Homo sapiens: one gene and its partner. The protein of the gene in region 1 purifies or fractionates together with the protein of each later gene. This does not show direct contact. Each region holds a gene or a part of one and is shown in the gene's direction. Other genes may lie near its edges. The genes, in order: DUSP11 and MRPS21.

The links.
Region 2: the proteins of DUSP11 (region 1) and MRPS21 purify together in Homo sapiens (affinity purification with mass spectrometry, with the first as the bait; one large-scale study listed by BioGRID). This does not show direct contact.

What each region holds. Positions count from the first base shown.
Region 1 is NC_000002.12:73,773,568-73,777,391, reverse strand, and holds part of DUSP11 (RNA/RNP complex-1-interacting phosphatase), read left to right. Parts: intron 1-2,347; coding exon 2,348-2,479; intron 2,480-3,468; coding exon 3,469-3,592; intron 3,593-3,824. UniProt on the Homo sapiens protein: Possesses RNA 5'-triphosphatase and diphosphatase activities, but displays a poor protein-tyrosine phosphatase activity. In addition, has phosphatase activity with ATP, ADP and O-methylfluorescein phosphate (in vitro). Binds to RNA.
Region 2 is NC_000001.11:150,303,849-150,306,981, forward strand, and holds part of MRPS21 (small ribosomal subunit protein bS21m), read left to right. Parts: intron 1-3,133.

The sequences.
Region 1 (3,824 bases):
GCCTACTTGAAACGTTTTGGGAATTTACTTAATTTGTGACTTATAGATCAGATTTCCTTTTTCAACTGCTGTGTCAGCTTCTCTGCATGTCTGGGCTTAAAAATGAGTCATTTCAGGCCAGGCCTGTTGGATCATGTTTGTAATCCAGTACTTTGGGAGGCAAGGTGGGTGTATCGCTTGAGTCCAGGAGTTTTAGACCAGCCTGGGCAACACTGAAACCGTGTCTCTACAAAAAATACAAAAATTAACCAGGCGCGGTGGCGTGTGCTTGTAGTCTCAGCTGCTCAGGAGGCTGAAGTGGGAGGATCGATTGAACCCAGGAGGTCAAGGCTGCAGTGAGCCATGATCATGCCACTGTACTCCAGCCTGGGCAACAGAGCAAGACCCTGTCTCCAAAAAGAAGGTGTTGGAGACACAGGGAATTTTTAGGGAAGTGAAACTATTCTGTGTGATACTCTAAGGGTGGATACATGTTATATATTGATCAAAACCTATAAAAGGGCTTCACGTATATTAACACATTTCACAACAATCCTGTGCTGATGAAGTAGCAGTAGTACTAATATCTCTTACTGAGTGCTTATTCTGCACTAAGCTCAGAGAATAGATGGTTACATCTAATAAATAATTTTGTAGATAATCAAACAGGCTCAGAAAAGGAAGAATCAAAACTTGAACTTAGTTCTTTCTCTCATTTTTTTTGTGGCAAAATATATATAACATAATATGTACATACAATGCATAACATAGAATGAATCACGCATACCTAACCTCTAGACTTTGGTGATAACGATGTGTCAGAGTTGGTTCTTCATTTGTAACAAATGGACCACACTGGTATGGAATGTGGATAGTGGGGGAGTCTGGGTGGGTTGGGGAAGGCAAAGTACATGTGGGAACTATCTGTCCTTTTGGCTCAGTTTTGCTGTGAACCTAAAACTGCTCTGAAAACTAGTCTATTTTTTTTTTTTTTTTTTTGAGATGGTGTCTCGCTTGTCGCCCAGGCTGGAGTGCAGTGGTGTGATCTTGGTTCACTGCAAGCTCTGCCTCCTGGGTTCACGCCATTCTCCTGCCTCTGCCTCCTGAGTAGCTGGAACTACCGGCGCCTGCCACCACGCCTGGCTAATTTTTTTGTGTTTTTAGTAGAGATGGGGTTTCACCGTGTTAGCCAGGATGGTCTCGATCTCCTGACCTCGTGATCCTCCTGCCTCGGCCTCCCAAAGTGCTGGGATTACAGGCTTGAGCCACCGCACCCAGCCAAACTAGTCTATTTTTTAAAAAGTACATTGCTGGCACCTGAGTAGCCAGACAGATTGAAGGAACAGAGCATAAAGTTCAAAAATAAGCCACATACATAAAAGAATATTCAGCAATGAAAGCCATCCTTCATATATGTAGACATGTGAGAAATATTTATTTGTGAGGCCGAGACAGGAGGGTTGCTTGAGCTCAGGAGTTTGAGATCAGCCTGGGCTACATGGCAAGACGGCAAGACCCTATCTCTTTTTTTTTTTTTTTTTTTTTTTTAAATTTTTTTTTTGAGATGGAGTCACTCTGTCACCCAGGCTGGAGTGCAGTGGTGTGATCTCGGCTCACTGCAAGCTCTGCCTCCCGGGTTCACGCCATTCTCCTGCCTCAGCCTCCCGGTAGCTGGGACTACAGGCGCCTGCCACCACCCCTGGCTAATTTTTTGTATTTTTAGTAGAGACGGGGTTTCACAGTGTTAGCCAGGATGGTCTCGATCTCCTGACCTTGTGATCCTCCCGCCTTGGCCTCCCAAAGTGCTGGGATTACAGGTGTGAACCACTGCGCCCAGCTGACCCTATCTCTTTAAAAAAAAAAAAAAAAGGCCAGGTGTGGTGGTTCATGCCTGTAGTCCCAGCTACTTGTGAGGTTGAGGTGGGAGTATTGCTTGAGCCCAGGAGGTGGAGGCTGCAGTGAGCCATGTTTGTGTCACTGCACTCCAGCCTGGATGACGGATGACAGAGCAACACCCTGTTTCAAAAAAAAAAAAAAAAAAAGAAAAGAAATATTTATAAGCACTAAATATGATAAGCACTCCACCTGGAGCTGGAGATACAGTGGTGAATAAAATCTGGGAGATTACAGTCTGATTAGGAGACCAACATGAAACAAATACAGAAATACATATATAGAAGTGGGCTTATTTTTTTCTTTCTGACCACTCTGGAAGAAAGGATTGTTGTAATATACCTTCTATGTTCCAGGAGAATGGAAACTTTCCTTTGAATCTCGTTGTATGTTAGCATCACAGGACTTGAATAAATGCCTAATGTAGTACAGGATTTTAAGCACATATTTGCTCTTATTTCATTCTCTGTGACAGAGTTTTGAAAAGAAACTTGCTCCAGAAGAATGCTTTTCCCCTTTGGATCTTTTTAACAAAATCCGAGAACAAAATGAAGAACTTGGACTGATTATTGATTTAACATATACTCAACGCTATTATAAACCAGAGGTAAGTGGAACCCTTCAATGAAAAGAACTTTCTTCCTTCTGATCCTAAAATAATTTATAGTAATTCAGTAATCATCTTGTGCTAATGTGAAGCTTGGCCTTCTTTGATGGGTAGTAAGTTTAAAAGAGAACCAAGTGATTTCTCTAATTACATGTTTTTAATTGCTGTCTTAAATGGAATATTATTCAGCCATAAAAAAGAATAGATTTAATACGTGCTACAATATGGATGAACCTTAAAAACATGCTTAGTGAAATAAACCAGACACAGAAGGACAAATATATGATTCCACTTGTATGAAGTACCTAGAATAGACAAATTCACAGAGACAGAAAGCAGACTAAAGGATCTATGAGGTGGGGAGAAAAGGGAATTATGGTTTAGTGGTCAGAGTCTTTTTGTCGGGGATGATGAAAAAGTTTTGGGTATAGACAGTGGTGATGGTTACACAATACTGTGAATGTAATGCCACTGAACTATACACTTGTGGATGGTTAAAATGATTTTGACTTAGCCTCTTCTGTCTTTTATCTGTATCTACTTTTCTCCCACCCCAAGAATATCGGTTCTCAATAGTGCCTGGAATTCCCTCTATCTCACAATTCAAATCCAAGTTCTTCTGACTCTATTCTCTACTCTTCTACTTAAATCATAGCTGCTTTATGAAGGCACTGGCCCTTGAATTATAAAATATTAAATGGAACTGTTTATATAATTTATAGTTAAATATGCATTCATTCACATGGAATTTGCTTTCAGTTTTGTATACCTAGTGACTATCTATTATGTAGTTTTATTGAAAATCAAGTGATACTTCCTGGTTGAAGCAGTGTTGGAAAAAATGGCTCTTTTATCAGAATTGTGTATACTGATATTGGCATATTAAGTTTGTTATAATCTCTTGGCTTATATTCTGGGTCCCCTAATTACTCTTTAATTATTTCTCTACAAGTGAAATAATACACATCTTTTATGGTTTTGCTTTATAGGATTTGCCAGAAACTGTTCCTTACTTAAAAATTTTTACAGTTGGACATCAAGTGCCTGATGATGAGACTATTTTTAAATTCAAACACGCTGTTAATGGGTTTTTGAAAGAAAATAAAGATAATGGTGAGTTTTTGTTCTTACCTGAACTGTGGTGTGCATTATGAATGGGGTTGGGGATTTTTGGTATTTTTTTATAGTTCCAACCTCAGACCTGTTGTATTTAATGATGCTAAGGTGATGAAAATGTCAGATGGTGCTAATAGGGTAAGATGTTTTTCCTTTTGTTGATCACAAATAATTTAACTTTGGAATGTTAAATTAGTTTTAGTGCAAAATATGAACTGAACTGGCTCAT
Region 2 (3,133 bases), on another chromosome or scaffold:
ATGGACATTTATTAGTCATCTAGAGGACTCATTTTTGGCATACATTTCCTAGTTGTTCTTTGCCAAGTATTTTGTTAGGTGCAAAAGTGAATACAGATTTGATCTCTAACCTTAGAAAAGACACAACCCAATGAGGGGTTCAATGTAATACTGTTTGATCAGTGCTATAAAAGAGACATCAGCCGGGCGTGGTGGCTCACGCCTGCAATCCCAGCACTTTGGGAGGCCGAGGTGGGTGGATCACCTGAGGTCAGGAGTTTGAGACCAGCCTGGCCAACATGGTGAAACCCTGTCTCTACTAAAAATGCAAAAATTATCCAGGTGTGGTGGTACGCCCCTGTAATCCCAGCTACTCAGGAGGCTGAGGCGGGAGAATTGCTTGAACCTGAGAGGTTGAGGCTGCAGTGAGCCAAGATGGTGACACTGCACTCCAGCCTGGGCAACAGAGCGAGGCCCTGCCTACAAAAAAAAAAAAATGGTGCCATGGTGTTGGTTGTCCCTGGACCATCAGCAGCAATATCAGCTGGGAATTGTTAGAAATGCAAATTCTTGGCCCCTACTCTAGGCCTACAGAATCAGAAACTGTGGCACAGCAATCTGTGGTGTTCTTTGAAATAGGGTTTCACAGCCAAGCGCAGTGGCTCATGCCTGTAATCCCAGCACTTTGGGAGGCCAAGGCAGGCAGATCATGAGGTCAGAAGTTCAAGACCAGCCTGACCAATATGGTGAAACTCCGTCTCTACTAAAAATACAAAAATTAGCTGGGCGTGGTGGTGCGTGTCTGTAGTCCCAGCTACTCGGGAGCCTGAGGCAAGAGAATCTCTTGAACCTGGGAGGCGGAGGTTGCAGTGAGCCGAGATCGTGCCACTGCAACTCCTGCCTGGGCAACAGAGCGAGACTCTGTCTCAAAAAAAAAAAAAAGGCCGGTTGCGGTGGCTCATGCCTGTAATCCCAGCACTTTGGGAGGCTGAGGCGGGTGGATCACCTGAGGTCAGGAGTTCGAGACCAGCCTGCCAACATGGCGAAACCTTATGTCTACTAAAAATAACAAAAATTAGCTGGTGCTTGTAATTCCGGCTACTTGGGAAGCTGAGGCAGGAGAATCGCTTGAACCCAGAAGGCGGAGGTTGCAGTGAGCCAAGATTGCGCCATTGCACTCCAGCCTGGGCAACAAGTGCGCAACTCCGTCTCAAAAGAAAGAAAGAAATAGGGTCTTGCTTGCCCAGGCTGGAGTGCAGTGCCACAATCATGGCTCACTGCAGTCTCAACCTCCTGGGATAAAGCATTTCTCCCATTCTCCCATGTCAGCCTCCCAAGTAGCTGGGAGTGCAGGTGTGTGTGCCACCATGTCTGGTTAATTTTTATTTTTTGTGGAGATGGGGTTCTCACTATGTTGCTCAGGCTAGTGTCAAACTCCTGGGCTCAAGTGATCCTCCCAGCTCGGCCTCCCAAAGTCCTGGGATTACAGGTGTGAGCCACCATGGCCAGCCAGCAATCCCTGTTTTAACAAGCTTTCCAGATGACTACTGCATGCCAAAGTTTGATTTCACCTGAACTAGTTTACAGATGTGATAACAATTGATTTGGGCCTTTGAGGAACAAGTAGGATTTCATCAGGAAGAAAAAGAAAAGAATGATATTCCAAGTAAAGGGAACATCATGAGCAAAGAAAAAAACAAGTATGTAGGATGCTTGGAGAACTGCATATACTTAAGTGTGACTAGAGCATAGGCATTATAGGGCACGTGTTTTGTTTTTGTTTTTTGAGATGGAGTCTCCATCTTTTGCCCAGCTGGAGTGCAGTGCCTTGATCTCGGCTCATTGCAACCTCCACCTCCCAGGTTCAAGCTATTCTCCTGCCTCCGCTTCCCGAGTAGCTGGGATTACAGGTGGGCACCACCATGCCCAGCTAATTTTTGTATTTTTAGTAGAGATGGGGTTTCACCATGTTGGCCAGGCTTGTCTCGAACTCCTGACCTCAAGTGATCAGTAGGGCAGGTTATTAAAAGATATATATATAGGGGGCAATTGTTTGGGCTTTGAGCTTAGACTAGTAGTTCCAAAATCTGTCTGTACATTGGAATCACCTTGGAAACTGAAAAACCTGCTCATGTCCCTTTCCCTCTCCTTTGTGATTTAATTGGACTGGGTGTGGCCCAGGGTTCGGAATGTTTAAAAGATCCCTGGGCAGTTCTGATGTGCAGATGATTCTGGGAACTTTAGTGGCTTAGGCCACTCTGTATATTAGGAAAGATTTTTTAGCACCAGAGTGACATGATCTGATTTATGTTTTAGGGCAATAATTGGTGTAGGAAAAGAGAGTGGAAATAGGGCAACCTACTTATTCACATTTCAGATGAGTTGTTCTTTAGGATCCCTTCACAACCACTTTCTTGTTCTCAAGTTCAGGTTTAATGCCTCCTGTGAGTTTGTTTTTGTTTTGTTTTTCCTTGAGACAAGAGTCTGTTGCCCAGGCTGGAGTGCAGTGGCACCATCTCGGCTCACTACAGCCTCCACCCCGAGTTCAAGGGATTCTCCTGCCTCAGCCTACTGAGTACAGGTGCCCACCACTACGCCTGGCTAATTTTTGTATTTTTAGTAGAGGTGGGGTTTCACCATGTTGGCCAGCCTGGTCTTGAACTCCTGACCTCAAGTGATCTTTTTGAGATGGAGTTTCACTCTTGTTGCCCAGGCTGGAGTGCAGTGGCGCAACCTTGGCTTACTGCAATCTCCGCCCCCAGGGTTCAAGCAATTCTCCTGCCTCAGCCTTCCGAGTAGCTGGGATTACAGGCATACACCACCATGCCCGGCTAATTTTGTATTTTTAGTAGAGACAGGGTTTCTCCATGTTGGTCAGGCTGGTCTCAAACTCCTGACCTCAGGTGATCCGCCCACCTCGGCCTCCCACAGTGCTGGAATTACAGGTGTGAGCCACCAGCCTGACAGGATGGAACTTTAAGTAAGAGAATCACCTTAAGAATCACCCCTAGTGATTCTGTTCTTACTGAAAATGGCTCTCCCCAGTTGAGGTCTCTGAAATGCCCCATTAGTTGAGAATCATTGCTGTAGGGAGACATGTTCTTCAGGTACTGTATCATATCCCTCAGGTGTGTTGTGGTAGAGTAGATTTGAG